Linked DNA regions of Homo sapiens. The protein of the gene in region 1 purifies or fractionates together with the protein of each later gene. This does not show direct contact. Each region holds a gene or a part of one and is shown on either strand. Other genes may lie near its edges.

Region 1 (8,295 bases):
TAACATGTCCATTTTTAAAGATGCAGGAGATTCAGAAATGCTAACAAACTTGTTCAAAGTCACAGGTAACATAAAGCTATTCCCCCCCAGGTAACAAAGCTAAGTAGACAGCTATTTATACAACACACTGATTGAAAAAGAATTTCTTAAGAATCTAATCTGTGCACGCAATTACATAATGTTCAGTGTGATAAGCATCTAACTTATCTTAAGAAAGCAAAACAAAAAGAAATGATTTGAGAAACAAATGAACTTGGAAAGACATGTCAACTTTAGCCTGCCTCCGTGTTCCCATTAATACAGCTTTCAAAAGAGCCCATAAATCTGTATCACAAATACTGAGTGCCTACTCCAGGTAAAGAACTTTGCCACATCACCCTTAGATTCAGTGGTGGAAAGGGGACACAACTGTGGATAGAATTTACAATCCAGAGCAAAAAAAATTTCCCTCTGGCACCCAAAGGTTGGCCCTAACACAACGCTACAACTTTTACATATCACAGAACTAGGTCTTTAAGTAATTAGCAAAACTAAAGAACAAGAACAAATTCTCATTTACATCTGTATGGTTAGTATAATCTCTTATTAACCAATGTGGCAAAAAAAATGCAAAACAAAGCCATCCTCTTAGAAAAATAGAACTTGGCTGGTCTTTGTTAAAAACTTTTTCCCATAGGAAAAAGGGACTCTTCCCTGGTTAATACAGTAGTTCTCCCATATCCATGGGGGATACGGTCCAAGACTCCCAGTGGATGCCTAGAACTGTGAATAACAGTGAACCCAATACACGTTGTTTTTTCCTATACATACCTATTATAAAGTTTCATTTACAGGCTGGGCACAGTGGCTCACGCCTGTAATCCCACCTCTTTGGGAGGCCGAGGCAGACCGATCATCTGAGATCAGGAGTTTGAGACCAGTCTGGCCAACACAGTGAAACCCTCCCTGTCTCTACTAAAAATACAAAAATTAGCCGGGTGAGCTGGGCGCGGTGGCTCACGCCTGTAATCCCAGCACTTTGGGAGGCTGAGGCGGGTGGATCACCTGAGGTTGGAAGTTCGAGACCAGCCTGACCAGTAAGATCTGATCAGTCTTTACTAAAAAAAAAAAAAAAAAAAAAAAAAAAAAAAAAAATTAGCCGGGCGTGGTAGCACATGCCCGTAATCCCAGCTACTTGGGAGGCTGAGGCGGAGAATCGCTTGAACCCGGGAGGCGGAGGTTGCGGGGAGCCGAGATCGTGCCATTCCAGCCTGGGCAACAAGCGCCAAACTCCATCTCAAAAAAAAAAAAAAAAATTAGCCGGGCGTACTGGGACACGCCTGTAATCCCAGCTACTTGGGAGGCTGGGGCATGAATATCCCTTGAACCTGGGAGGCAAAGTTTCAAAAAGTTAGGCACAGTAAGAGATTAACAATATACTGTATTAAAATTCACTTGAACATGGTATCTCTCGAAATGTCTTATTGTACTCTGTTTCGCACCTCAGGTAGCTGAAACTACAGAAAGCAGTTAAGTGGGGATCACTGTATTTCTCATTCAAAAGTTCCTTCCTCTGTCCACCAACTTATTCATTCTTTCTCTGGGCCAAGTGCTGGACCAGACCCTGAAAATTACAACAGGCTAAACCAGCCTTCATGAAATGCACTAGCAGAGGAAACAAAGCAACTAATTCATTACAATTAATGATCAACTTCTGCTAAGGAGAATAAAGAGTTCATGGAGGGCTTAATGGGGATGGGGTGATTTCCAGAGGAAGTGATATGTGGGCTGATATCTGAGGCAGGTATAAGAGTTGGAGGGAGGGAGAGAATACAGCATTAGAGGTGGAGGAAACTCCTAAAAGCCAAGAGAGGAAAGAAAATGAAGCTTTCCAGTAACAAAAATAAAGCCAGTGTGGCATGAACCTGGAAAGCCAGAAGGAAAGTGGGCCAAATGAACCAGAGATAGAGTGTGCTCACTCAGTAGGTCTTTATCCTAAAAGACTGCGAAACCTCAGATGCATTCTAAGCATGTGATTCACTAAAACACGTGCATTTCTAAACGATAATTCAGTGCCACAGAGCTCCTTCCAAAACCCATTCTCACACCCAGACAACGCACAGACTTCCTTAACAAGTCATTCACTGACACCGCCCAACTTTTAAAAAGAAAAAAAAAAAGCTTCAAATTGAATTCTACTTCAAGGAAGAGGAAATCAAGCAGGCTGAAAAAAAGAAAAAAGTGGTTTAAACAGGTGGCAGCCACTTAAATATTAAAAAGTGACCAACAGGCCAGGCGCGGTGGCTCACGCCTGTAATCCCAGCACTTTGGGAGGCCGAAGCGGGCGGATCACTTGAGGTCAGGAGTTTGAGACCAACCTGGTCCAACATGGTGAAACCCCGTCTCTACTAAAACTACAAAAATTACCTGGGCGTGGTGGCGCACGCCTGTAATCCCAGCTACTCAGGAGGCTGAGGCACAAGAATCGCTTGAACCCGGGAGGCAGAGGTTGCAGTGAGCCGAGATTGCGCCACTGCACTCCAGCCTTGCGACACAGCGAGACTCCGTCTCAAACAAACAAAAGTGACCAACGAACTTAACCTAAATATATATACGGAGAATAAAGTTTATATAGTTGTTTCTCACTTAGAAATAACCTTTCAATATACATATTATTTAAATTACATGACCATTAACACTTAGGGAAAACAGAAACTTACCTACATCCTAATATTTTACAATAAAACATGAGCTTGATTAAAGGTTCTGGTGCCCCTACAGATTTTCATGTCTTGCTAATACCATCCTTCCCTTCACACATTTTCTCTAAATCATTAAAAAGCTGACTTCCTGAGTGCATTTTTGGTTTCGCTTTTTAAAGAATAAAACGTCTTCTAATTCCTAACTTTCTTTACTACTGACTTGAGAGATGCCACGAGATTTGCGGAACACCAAACCAGCGTGCAGGGTTTAAAAGGCTGCCCGTGACCCGGGCGCCTGACGGTAACTTTCCCGCCCTCCCCTCCCCAACTCCCCTGCAGTCGCCGAGCCTCGCCTTCTCCGCAGCACAGCCCAGGACAAGGCCGGGCCGGAGCTGCTGCCGCCACCGCTTCTCCCTTCCCCGCGGGCTGAGGCCGGTGGACCCAAGCGGGAAGCGAGGAGAGGCGCGGGAGCACCACCGTTACCTGAGGCCCGCGCCCGGCAGCGGGCACTTCGGCCAAGAGGGCAGAGCCGGGAAGCGGTCACAGAGCAGCCAGCAGGAAGGTCGACTCCGGGAAGCTCTCCTGGCGCCCAGGGCCCGCAACGTCGCCTGCTAAGCTAAAGCGCCGGACAGCCCGGCCCCTACGCCCCCTGCCTCCGAGCACCGCTGCGTCACGCGCAGGGCCACCTCCGGCTGAGCATCCTATTGGTGGTCCCCAGGTTGCCAGGCTCCGCCCACCTCCCCGCCCCTTCCCGGGCGCGCGGGTCCCCGGCGCCAGTGCTCGCAGGCTGGCCCTGGCAACCTGCCAAGGAAGCTTCTCACCCGGACATCATGATACCGGCGACAACATCTTGCTTGACACTTCCACCCCAGCAGTAGAATGTGCAGCCAAAACGGGACTGCGACAACTCCCTGCAAGCCCGAAACGGCACCCTGCGTGGTAGCATGGAGCTGCAGGGGCGTTTGGCTCCTAGGCCGACTGGAAGAAGCCGCTTCTGGAGCTGTGGATCATTGCAGTTTGAACTGACCATCCAGGAACAACGTAGAACTAGCCAGAAGCAAGAATCGCTGGCTTATCTGCACACCAAGATTCGTGCCTTTATCAGGAGATTCCTTACCGTTTGAAAACCAGCGTCCTTCAGCAACATTCAAACTAGATAAGGGGAAAAAACCTGCACCAAATAATAAAACACACCAAATAATGGAACAACTAAGTAATATTTAAGGGCCCTTGAGGCCAGGTGCGGTGGCTCACGCCTGTAATCCCAACACTTTGGGAGACCGAGGTGGCTGGGTCACCTGAGGTTAGGATCGAGACCAGCCTGACCAACATGGTGAAACCCCGTCTCTACTAAATACAAAAAATTAGCCGGGCTTGGTGGCGCGCGCCTGTAATCCCAGCTATTCGGGAGGCTGAGGCAGGAGGATTGCTTGAACCCGGAAGCCAGAGGTTGCAGTGAGCCTAGATTGTGCCATTGCACTCCAGCCTGGGCAATAAGAGCTAAACTCCTTCTCAAAAAAAGTTTTAAAAATAAAATAAACAAAGGGCCCTCGTGACTTCATAATCAAAAGAAGAATGATGCAGAGAGATTTGGGACAGAGATTAAATACAACAGTTAATCGCTTGGAATTTGTGAAGGCAGAGGTGTACGTAAATTTAGGGTAAAGGTAGGTGAAAAGGCAATGATGAGAGGAGCAGAGACTGAAGAGTCGCACTCACAGCCTGCAAACTAATACCAGCTAGCCTGGCCTGACTAATCGCTTCTTCCCCACTCCTCCCCAGGACAAAAATCCCTGAACAAACAGATGAGGTTTAGCAGAACTGACTACTCTCTGGGTCCTTTAAACAAAGTGGATTTGTACACGTTCCCTTGGCCACCCAGCAGGCTGCACTGTTCACTCAAAGCAGAAATGGCCCTCAGCATCCAGTCGAGTTTAGTACTGGCTGTCATTGGCAGATCTGCTCCGTTTGGCCTCTTCTACAACTGTGATTGCCACGTGTGCTGACTAGTTGGTGACAGGGTCTGGTAGACCCCCAGCTGCTTCCCCTCCCCACTCCCACTAGTTATAGAGCAGTAGGAACATAGGCACTCATTTCTATTGGGTCTCTGTTGGCTACCTTCTATATACACCAAGATGACTGGCCTTTTCACTGTTTGATTCATTCATTCAAAAAATATTGATAGTATTCTTGGTGCTAGAAATACAGTGGTGAATAAACAGAAGAAGCCCCTGCACTTAGAGGCTTATGTTCTGCAGGACTAGGTATGAAAGGAAACAAACAGGTGGCTCAAGCCTATAATCCCAGCACTTTGGGAGGCTGAGGCAGGAGGATCACTTTGAGGCCAGGAGTCCAAGACCAGCCTGAGCAACATAGTGAGACTCCCTCTCTACAGAATTTAAAAACAACAACAACAACAACAACAATGACAACAAAATTTGCTGGGAATTGTGGCAGGCCCCTATGGTCCCAGCTACTCGGGAGGCTGAGATAAGAGGATTGCTTGTGGTGGGGGATGGGGGGTGAGGGACGGAGGATGCAGTGAGCCAAAAAATCATGCCACTGCACTGCAGCCTGGTCAACACAGTGGGACTCTGTCTCAAACAACAAAAGCTTATGTTTCTAATGAAGAATATAAATAATAAAACGAATAGATGAGATAATCACTGGCAGTGATAAGTACTGAGCAGAAAACAAAACAGAATGGTCAGGGAAGGATTTTCTGAGGAGATAATTCAGGAGCTAAGACCTAAATGACAAGAAGGAGCCAGCCAAGCCAACCATGGGGAGGAAGAACATTCTAGACAGAGGATAATGGGTGTCAAGGCCCCGATGCTGAACTGTGGCTGATGCTGAAGCGTGGCTGTTTGAGGAACAGGCCAGGAGGCTTGAGCATGTCAAATAGGGGTTTGAAGTTGAGTTTGGAGCATTAAGCAGGAACCTAATCACGTTGTTTGGATTTATCTGTTAAGTGCAAAGGCAAGATAATGAAGGGTTTGGGTTTTTGTTGTTTTGAGATGGGGTCTCACTCTGTCGCCCAGGCTGGAGTGCAGTGGTGCAATCAGGGCTCACTGCATCCTCTACCTCCCCAGGCTCGCTAAGTCATCTTCCCACCTCAGCCTCCCTAGTACCTGGGACTACAGGTGGGCGTCACCACACCAGACTAATTTTTGTATTTTTTGTAGAGACAGGGTTTCGCTGTGTTGCCCAGGCTGGTCCTGAACTCCTGGGCTCAAGTGATCCTCCCGCCTCAGCCTCCCAAACTGCTGGGATTACAGGCATGAGCCACGTGCCCGGCCATTGGTTTATTTTTTTTTTTAAATCAACCTATTTTATAGAGAATGACTTGAAGGGAGCAGCAATGGAACAAAAAGGAGCCGAAGAACAATACAAAGTTATTGGGCAAGTTCAGGGGGTAGATGGTGGTACCTGGACTAGGCTGGTTGGTGTGGAAATAGAAATTGAAAGATTTCAGGATATTTTCCCGAGGTGCAGGTGTGAAGAAAGGTAGTAAACGAGATGACTCCCAGGTTGTTTCCTTAAGCAATTGAGAGGATGGGGATACCATTTAGTGCAAGGGCAAAGATGATATATGATTGGAGGGACTCCAAAGCCTGTGCTCAGACTCCAAGCCTCTCCCACCACTGCACTGAAAATCTCACATTACTCAATCCTTGGAAATCAAGGTTTGGTTAAATGCAAGTGTTGACTTCATCATATTGAAAAAAAAACAGGTGTACAGAACTTGTATAGTTGCTAGTGCTAAGAATATGAATAAGACTGTCTATTGGAGACACTAATAGGTATAAGCCATTTCAAAACAATGAGATAAGTGTTACAATAAAAGGATGTTAAAGGCCAGGCGTGGTCGCTCACACCTGTAATCTCAGCACTTTGGGAGGCCAAGGTGGGCGGATCACCTGAGGTCAGGAGTTCGAGACCAGCTTGGCCAACATGGTGAAAACCTGTCTCTACTAAAAATACAAAAAATTAGCCGGGTGTGGTGGCAGGCGCCTATAATCCTAGCTACTTGGGAGGCTGAGGCAGGAGAATCTCTTGAACCTGGGAGGCAGAGGTTGCAGTGAGCCGAGATCGCGCCACTGCACTCCATCCTGGGCAACAGAGCAAGACTCCCTCTCAAAAAGAAAAAAAGAAAAAGATGTTAAAAAAAATTCTTTACAGTGGCTCATGCCTGTAATCCCAGCACTTTGGGAGGCCGAGGTGGGCAGATCACTTGAGGCCATGAGTTCGAGACCAGCCTGGCCAACATGGCAAAACCCCATCTCTACTAAAAATACAAAAAATTAGCTGGGTGTGGTGGCAGGCACCTATAATCCCAGCTACTTGGGAGGCTGAGGCAGGAGAATCGCTTGAACCCGGGAAGTAGAGGTTGCAGTGAGCCGAGATTGCGCCACTGCACTCCAGCCTGGGTGACAGAGCGAAACTCTGTCTCGAAAAAAAGGCTGGGCGCAGTGGCTCACCCCTGTAATCCCAGCACTTTGGGAGGCTGAGGGGGGGCAGATCACCAGGTCAGGAGTTTGAGACCAGCCTGACCAACTTGCTGAAATCCCATCTCTACTAAAAATACAAAAAAAAAAATTAGCCGGGCGCCACGCGCACACCTGTAATCCCAGCTACTCAGGCAGCTGATGCAGGAGAATCGCTTGAACCCGGGACGTGGAGGTTGCAGTGAGCAGAGATCGCGCCACCGCACTCCAGCCTGGGTGACAGAGGGAGACTCTGTCTCAAAAAAAAAAAAAATGTGTTTACCCAACAGGGTCATTGTGTGGATTAAATTGGTTAATGCCTTCAAAGCTTCACATATAGACACTGGTATATAGAAGTGCTCAACCAATATTAATGGTTTTTGTTATTTTATTTTTATTCTTATTTTTGGAGACAGGTTTCTTGCTCTGTCACACAGGCTGGAGTGCAATGGCATGATCGTAGCTCACTGCAGCCTCAAACTTCTGGACTCAAACTGTTCTCCTGCCACAGCCTCCTGTGTAGCTGTGATTAAAGGTGTGAGCCACCAGGCTTGGCTAACTGCTATTATTATTGTTTATGTTATTATCTTCTGAATACAGTGGGAGCAGGTTAATGATGATCACAGCTGGCGGTTGGAGGAGAGGGAAGGGAGAATGGAAGAAGGCTAACTGAGCCCAGTTTTCTGAACCAGTAGGAGGAGTTTTGTCATCAGGGTAGGGAGGAGGAACATTCCAAACAAAGGAAAAAAAAATCAAGGTCAAAGGCCACAAGGCAATAAGGAGCCAGAACCATCCAGGAGACATGAAGGAAGTCGTGAGTATTGTTAAAGGGGCCAGAGGTAAAGCCAGTGTCAGGACTTAAAAAGTTTGTAGACCATGTTGAGACATTCTGAGCCATACTCTTTTTGTTTTTGATGGGAGTGGGGTGTAGACAGGGCCTCACTCTGTCACCCAGGCGAGGGTGCAAATCTTGACTCACTGCAACCTCTGCCTCCCAGGCTCAAGCAATCCTCCCATTTCAGCCTCTGAAGTGGCTGGGACCACAATCACCCGCCATCATGCCTGGCTAATTTTATTTATTTATTTATTTATTTATTTATTTTTGAGATGGAGTTTCGCTCTTGTTG
Region 2 (7,713 bases), on another chromosome or scaffold:
ATTCTTCCAAATTATTACATATATCAAGAGTTCATTACTTTGTATTGCTGAGTAGCTACAGTTTGTTTAACCATTCATCTGCTGAAGGACATTTGGGTTGTTTTCAATTTCTGGCTTTTACAAATAAAGCTGCTATGAACTTTTATGTACAGGTTTTTGTGTGTACATGTTTTCATTTATCTGAGATAAATGTCTAAGAGCGTAATTGCTGGGTTGTATGGTAAGTGCACGTTCAGTTTTGTAAAAAAAAATCACTATACTCTTTGCATGACAGTTCCCAGTGGCCTTGGACTGATCAACTTCTCCCCAGTTTCTCACTTGTATTAATAGTTCTCAAGAATAACTGTAGAATGTGCTAGGAATGCAATATCCTGAGATAAGGAGGGACTGGCTGAAACAGCCCAGGCTCTGTTCCAGTCCCTCCTAGAAACAGGATGTCCTTCATCATTTTAGCCCAACATGTCATGTTGCCTCCAGAATATAAAACCCAAGATGGTCTGCTTTCCAGGGTCACTCAGCTGTGGTACAAATGGGGTACACACAAATGAGACTCCATCCTTCCGGGGCAACTTTCCTGAGTCTCGGGAGATTGGCTCACAGTGAATCCTATGCTTCGGTTTTCCCTTGTTGCCTAGCTGTAAATAATAAATTCACTTCATGTAACTTGTACACATGGGTGTTCTGTCTCACCAGACTCAGTTGGTAACCAGTGCACAGCAAACCTGCTTTGCACTCTTTTCCAGAGTGGCTGCACCGTGTTACATTTCCAGCAGCAGTGTGCAAATGTATGTAAGCAGTTTAAGTGCTTAACCAACAGTTCTTCAGAATAACTAACAAAAGCACGATGGTGCTTTTTACTTATTAATTCCTGGAGATTAATTGGTCTCCTTCTGATAAAAACATTCCAAATCTTTCAGCTCAAATCACTCTATGGTTTGGGAAGATATCAGTGGAAGAAACTCACTGCAAAGAAGTTAAGTCAAAGAAGTCCTAAGAAAAGTGTTTTAAAACAAGGCTAAAACTTTATTCTAAAGACAACTGAGAGTAGGGAAGGTAACTAAGATTTATTGAGCCTATATACCAGGCATTTTTCAGTCTTTATCTCATGTATTCCTCCCAATGACCCTGTAAAAAGGGTAATATGTCTATTTCATAAATATTACAATTGCCGAGCTTGGTGGCCCATGCCTGTAATCCTAGTACTTTGGAGGCCAAGGCAGAAATATCGCTTGAGCTCAGGAGTTCAAGATCAGCCTGGGCAAAATAATGAGACCTCATCTCTATTAAAAATTTAAAAAAACATTAGCTAGGAGTGGTGGCGCATGCCTGTTGTCCCAGCTACTCAGGAGGCTGAGGTGGGAGGATCACGTAAGGCCAGGAGGTCAAGGCTTCAGTAAGCCATGATCACATCACTGCCCTCCAGCCTGGGTGACAGAGCCAGACTCTGTACCCCACCCCACTCAAAAAAAAGTAAGAAAGAAAAGAAAAAGAAATATAAGAAATATTGCAATTGAAGCTTTACATAATGTTTCATACAGGTTATGGAATTACTAGGTGGTGAAGTGAGAGTGAGAGGCCCATACTTGTAGCTTCTGCTGCCTTCAGCTCAGGGCAAAGAAACATAGAAGGCAATCAACATGTTTGTTGAAAAAAAAAAAGAATAAATGAATGAGTGACTTAACTTCAGCTCTGCTATTTATGTGTCCCTGGGCAGGAAAATTAATTTCTTTGAGTCTATTTCTTCATTTCTTATAGCAAGATAATAATGACATCTAGTTCACAGAGCTAAGGGACAAATAAGGTGATAAACTGGGAAAACAATTTGAAAAATATTAATTAAACAAATGTTAGCTAGCATAATATTTAAAAAGTACAGTCACAGTCATAAACAAATATTGATAAATATAGGTATGAGAGGAGGGTGGGTGTATGAAGATCACTTAATATCTCTGATTCCCTGGTTTCCTCACCTGTAAGATCACAACTGAGTTTAAAGCTGAGCACCTTCATGACACAGACTCTAAGACTCACCAAGTTAGGAGACAGAGTCAAGGAAGCCTCTGCACATAACTTTAATTTGAAAATGTTTATTCTACCTCCGAGGATATTTCAAAGTATGGAGCTGATTATCTTTATCCATGACATTCTGGCCTTTATCAATTAGGTCATTCAGACCTATATCAATACATTTAATGAATTACAACATGTAAAACTTCTGTGCATGTGTACATGAGAACAGTATTAGAAACAGCTACTACTATGAGTGTTTATACATAACTTCCGAACAATTAGTGTTTGGAAAAATAGACATTAGATAGAAAATCTGGAAGAATGGGCAAGGAATTGGTATATTGTGTCTGGAGAGGAACATAGCTGGCTAGGGACAGGTAAAACAATTATTCACACTTGGCCGAGCGTGGCGGCTCACGCCTGTAATCCCAGCACTTTGGGAGGCCCAGGCAGGTGGATTGCCTGAGTTCAGGGAGACTAACCTGCGCAACATGGTGAAATCCCGTCTCTACTTTAGTATTTTCAAATACAAAAAATTAGCCAGGTGTGGTGGCGCATGCCTGTAATCCCAGCTACTCGGGATGCTGAGGCAGGAGAATCGCTTGAGCCTGGAAGGCCGGGAGGTTGCAGTGAGCTGAGATCGTGCCACTGCACTCCAGCCTGGGCAGCAGAGCGAGACTGTCTCCAATTCATATTTGTAATCCTTTGCACTTTCTTTTTGAATTTTGAAACATGTATTACTGCATTACTATTAATAGACTCACGTTTTAGAAAACTTTTATATAAAAATGTTGTCATTTTAAGCATTACCTTTATTTCAACTATTAATTTAAATTATGAAAATATGAAGCCACTTCACTTTCAATATGGTTGTAACTTTTTAACAGACTTTGTGGTCACTGGGCATATTTAACCCCTCGAATAAAGCAATCTTTCCCTTTTATCATTACTTTGTAAGACTCATTTGCTGGGTGGTGGATTAAATTGAACAGAATAAGTTATTTCTTTTTCTTTTCTTTTTTTTTTTTTTTTGAGACGCTGTCTCGCTCTGTCGCCCAGGCTGGATGGCACGATCTCGGCTCACTGCAAGCTCCGCCTCCCGGGTTCACGCCATTCTCCTGCCTCAGTCTCCAGAGCAGCTGCGACTACAGGCGCCAGCCACCAAGCCCGGCTAATTTTTTGTGTTTTTAGTAGAGACGGGGTTTCACCATGTAAGCCAGGATGGTCTTGATCTCCTGACCTCGTCATCCGCCCACCTAGGCCTTCCAAAGTGCTGGGATTACAAGCGTGATTCACCGCGCCCGGCCCCAGAATAAGTTATTTCCCAAGAGCCACCCTTAGATGCTGGTAGGTGTAATGGTCTTCCCAAGACCAGGTGCTGGATAGAAGGTCCTTGCATTTTCCTCATCTGTTGCCATCCTCAGTAAAGGAGGAATTAGGACTGCCGCAAGCCCCTAAAGACTGGAAAGATGGGACGGGCGCGATGGCTCACGCCTGTAATCCCAGCAATTTGGGAGGCCGAGGAGGGTGGATCGCCTGAGGCCAGGAATTCCAGACCAGCCTGGCCAACATGGTGAAACCCCATCTCTACTAAAAATACTAAAATTAGCCGGGCGTGGTGGCGCGCGCCTGTAATCCCAGCCACTCGGGAGGCAGAAGCAGGAGAATCGCTTGAACCCAGGAAGCAGAGGTTGCAATGAGCCGAGATCGCACCACTGCACTCCAGCCTGGGCGACAGAGTGGGGAAAAAAAAAAAAGTGAAAAGATGATGGCGCCCACTTCCGACCCCCTTAAGTAATTAAAAATAGGAATTCATTTAGGAAGTGAATTAAAACTTAAATTAGGGTGGATACAAGACGTTCCTTCTAGACTTTCTGAAATAAAAATTCCGAATAAAATCATCAAAGCCGAACTTTTCCTTTTTGCCTTTCCCTTCTTTGCTAGTGCCTGGGACCGCGTTCAGCCTCCAGCTCAACAATCCGGCACTCGCCGGCTTTTAAGTCCCACCCACGCGGCCGCGCACAGGTAACGGCAGTGCCAGTCCCACCCCACCTACGAGCTCCTCCTCCGCCTCCCACCAAGGGGCCTTGGCCCCGCCCTTGGAAGCGTGGTTGTGACGTCAGCGCGCTGTCTCCGAAGCCCGGCAGCAAATGAGCGCAGACCGCACGGGCCCTCCGCGTACCAAGGCACACGCATGCGCATTGGTTCTGGGAGCCCTGAAGACCTGGCGGAGCCCAGCGCGGATGGAGGCCTGAGGGTGGCGGGGGCGGAGCGCGCCGCGAGCTGGGGGCATGTCCGCGGCGGGCGCCGTCTAGAGGAAGGCCAAGCAGCCGCCACCACGCTGTCGGTCGCGGAGAGACGCAAGCGAGCCAGGCCGAGGGCCGCGGCGGCGATGCAGCGACGGCGTCGCCCTCCGCCGCCCACCTCCCGGCTGCCCGAGGGCTGCGGGGGAGGAGGCGGTGGCAGCGAGGAGGTGGAAGTGCAGTTTTCCGCCGGGCGTTGGGGCTCGGCCGCGGCGGTTTCGGCGGCAGCGGCGGCGGCCACGCGCAGCACCGAGGAGGAGGAGGAGAGGCTTGAGCGTGAGCACTTCTGGAAGATCATTAATGCCTTCCGCTACTACGGGTAAGGAGCCCGTGGCGGACCCCGGCCCAGACCGTCGGGGCGCCCACTGGTGGCGGCGGACCCGCCGGAACGGGGGCGCTCGCCGTCCCGCCGCCACGCCTCCGAGGCGTCGGGACCCGGCTGCTGCAGCTGACCTCCGGGCCCCGAGTCACCTCGCACCACCCCAGCCCCTCCCGGCCCTGCACACCCGCGTGTCCGCCGCGCCGTCTGCTGCACAGCCTCGTGTCTTCTGACCTCAGGATCAGATTAGCTCTCCTGCCTCCGTCCTCGTAAAGGTTTGGCTTTGAGGCCGATGGGGGTGACCAGAGAAGCGCTGTAACAATTTCAGATAGAAGACGATGGTGGTACAATCGTCCACTGCTGGGCTGATTGGTGTGTGTGGTCGATGTCCTCCAAACTGAACACACGGAGAGCCCAAGTTCACCTACGCGTGGGATGCTGTAGGACGTATTTTCCCAAACTGTTACCAGTGCTTGTAAGAGCAGTTTAAGATTTCCACCCACCCCTCTTTGGCGCTGTGAACGCACTTGCACTTTTGTGTGAGCGATTGAATGATGCTGCTCAGTGTCTTTAACTGGTGGGTGATTAAGGGCGGAAGTGGTCCGGATATTCTAAAATTTGCTAATTATTAGGAGAGATGAGAGAAGTCACAATAAGAGCTGCCTTTACGTTCTTTTTTTCTGCAAATCTGTATCTAATTCTCCCTGGTGTGCTAGGCACTGTGGTAGGACCTTTATGCTCCTCATTCATAAAAACAGCTCCCTAACTTCCACGTTTCTTCTAGATAGATGTTAAAGTAGCTTAATCACAAAATTATAATTCCAAGAGCTGAAAGGGACTTAAATCAACTGGATTTTCAGGTGAAGATAACACTTTTATTCACGTAAGAGATATGAGTCCACCGGTGACTATGTTCTGAGGCTGCAGTTGGAATCAGACAGACATGACCTCCTACGCAGGTAAACCTGTTCCCATAGGTGGGTTCCTGCTGTGCTTTATGCAAAGTTTTTTTATATTGTTCATCTTATGTATTATAGTTGTTTTTATAAATCTCTTGCTTTGCTGTGACCTCCTCAAGGGCAGGGGCTGAGTCTTTTTTATTTTTATGTCACTAGTGCTTGGCATATGTTGTTTAAGCTCTATTTTTAACAAAACAAATAGTAGCAAAGAAATACATTTCTCATTCCCAAATAGTCTGTCAAGTTTTTGACTGATAGTTAAATTAGTTTACTAGTCTGAATTTAGAAGCTTGCTTAGTGAAAGCTTAAAGTTATTTGGAATCTGATTGTATATGTGATAGGAACTTTTGAACTTCGAAGATCTTGATGAAATAATTTACTGATTAAACCCAGAAATAGGGACCAGGGACAGCATTACTTTACGGAGCCCAAAAGAGAAGTTTGGATATTTTATTTCTCCAGGTTTAGTAGTAACAGAGGGAGCAAGGCGTCAGACCATCAGAGAATTGAATTTGATGCAGGAATTGTGACGGAAAGAACCATAAAGTTAGGAAAGGCAGCTAACATCAGATAGCTAAGAGTGGGAGATACAGAAAAGTCTGGTACATTTTGCTCTTGAAAAATCTAGAAAGAATATTGGGAAATGTCTTGGGAATATGGTGGACCCATTTAGTTAAGTGCGTAGTTGTACTTACTTTTAATATATTAGGACCAATTTAAAATTGATATTTATGGGTAAGTATGGGATGGGACTTTGTTGGGGTAGGGGTTGATCAGGAACTGAAGTGTGGCAATATAGAGAAGAGATCTTGTGTGAATATTCTAGTGGTTGTGATACTATTTCCTATACTCTCTTCTTTACCAGCGTAATGTTGGATTCAGGACATTTCATTTTTTAAAAAAAACAGTTTTTATTTGTATATACTCTCTTGAAACACTTCAAATACTTGGGCTGAAAATAGTATAACATCAAAAATATGCTTTTTAAAATGTCACTTAAAGCCTAGGGGTACAGAAAGTTTATGTAGCAGAGAACAGTGGATTGTTACATTCTAATATTTTGTGATCTTCTAGACTTAAACTGTAGCCACTAATCATATCTGGATAAATTTAAGCTAAAATTAATTAGTATTTAATAAGCTTTAAAATTTAGTTGCTCAGTTTCACTACCCATATTTCAGGTGCTCAATAGCTACATGTGGCTAGAGTCTGCTGTACTGGACAGTGCAAATAAAAGCTTTTCCATTATCGAAGTAGGTTGTGATGGACAATCCGGTTCTACACATTTAGCAAGTACAGTTGACCCTTAAACAATATGGATCTGAACTGCACGGGTCCACTTATACACAAATTTTTTGAAATAAACATATTGGAAAATTGTTTTGACATTTGCAACAATTTGAAAAACTTAGCAAACTTGCATAGCCTAGAAATAGTGAAAAAATTAAGAAAAAATTATGCCATGAATGCATATGTGTAGATACTAGTTTATCATTTACTACCATAAAATATACACAAATCTATTATAAAAAGTTAAAATTTATCAAAACTTACACAAACACAGATCTTACATGGAGCTATTTGCAATTGAGATAAATGTAAACAAGCAAAGATGTAGCATTAAATCTTAGTTGCATAAAATTATCTGTAGTAGATACTGTACTACTGTAATAATTTTGTAGCCACTTCCTGTTGCTTTTGCAGTAAGCTCAGATGTTACCAGTATCTTCTTAAAATAATCACTCTGCTTTTGTCTGTCAAGTAAATTGCATATAGCAGTAAACAGATTTCATCAAATTTAATGCAATACCATAAACCTTAAATAACACCATGGGTCCCATATGACGTGCCACTGGTGATGCTGCAGGTGCTCCCAAGAAGCAGAGAAAAAAGACATTACAAGAAAAAGTTGATTTGTTTGATATGTACTGTAGATAGAGGTCTGCAGTTGGAGGTTGCCCCCCAACCCCATTTCAGACAGAGGATTCATCTTGTAATCAAATTATGTAAACTTATAGTATTGATAAATGCAGTGCAGTAGTGTAAATGTATTTTCCCTTTCCTACGACTTTCTTAATATTTTCTTAGCTTTATTGTAAGAATATAGTACGTAATATATTAA

The links.
Region 2: the proteins of SOAT1 (region 1) and CARNMT1 purify together in Homo sapiens (affinity purification with mass spectrometry; 2 studies listed by BioGRID and IntAct, with this or other methods). This does not show direct contact.

What each region holds. Positions count from the first base shown.
Region 1 is NC_000001.11:179,288,806-179,297,100, reverse strand, and holds the start of SOAT1 (sterol O-acyltransferase 1), read right to left. Parts: upstream 3,305-8,295; 5' UTR 3,165-3,304; exon of another isoform or gene 2,700-3,164; intron 1-2,699.
Region 2 is NC_000009.12:75,024,931-75,032,643, reverse strand, and holds the start of CARNMT1 (carnosine N-methyltransferase), read left to right. Parts: upstream 1-4,350; 5' UTR 4,351-4,402; coding exon 4,403-4,632; intron 4,633-5,492; exon of another isoform or gene 5,493-5,591; intron 5,592-7,713.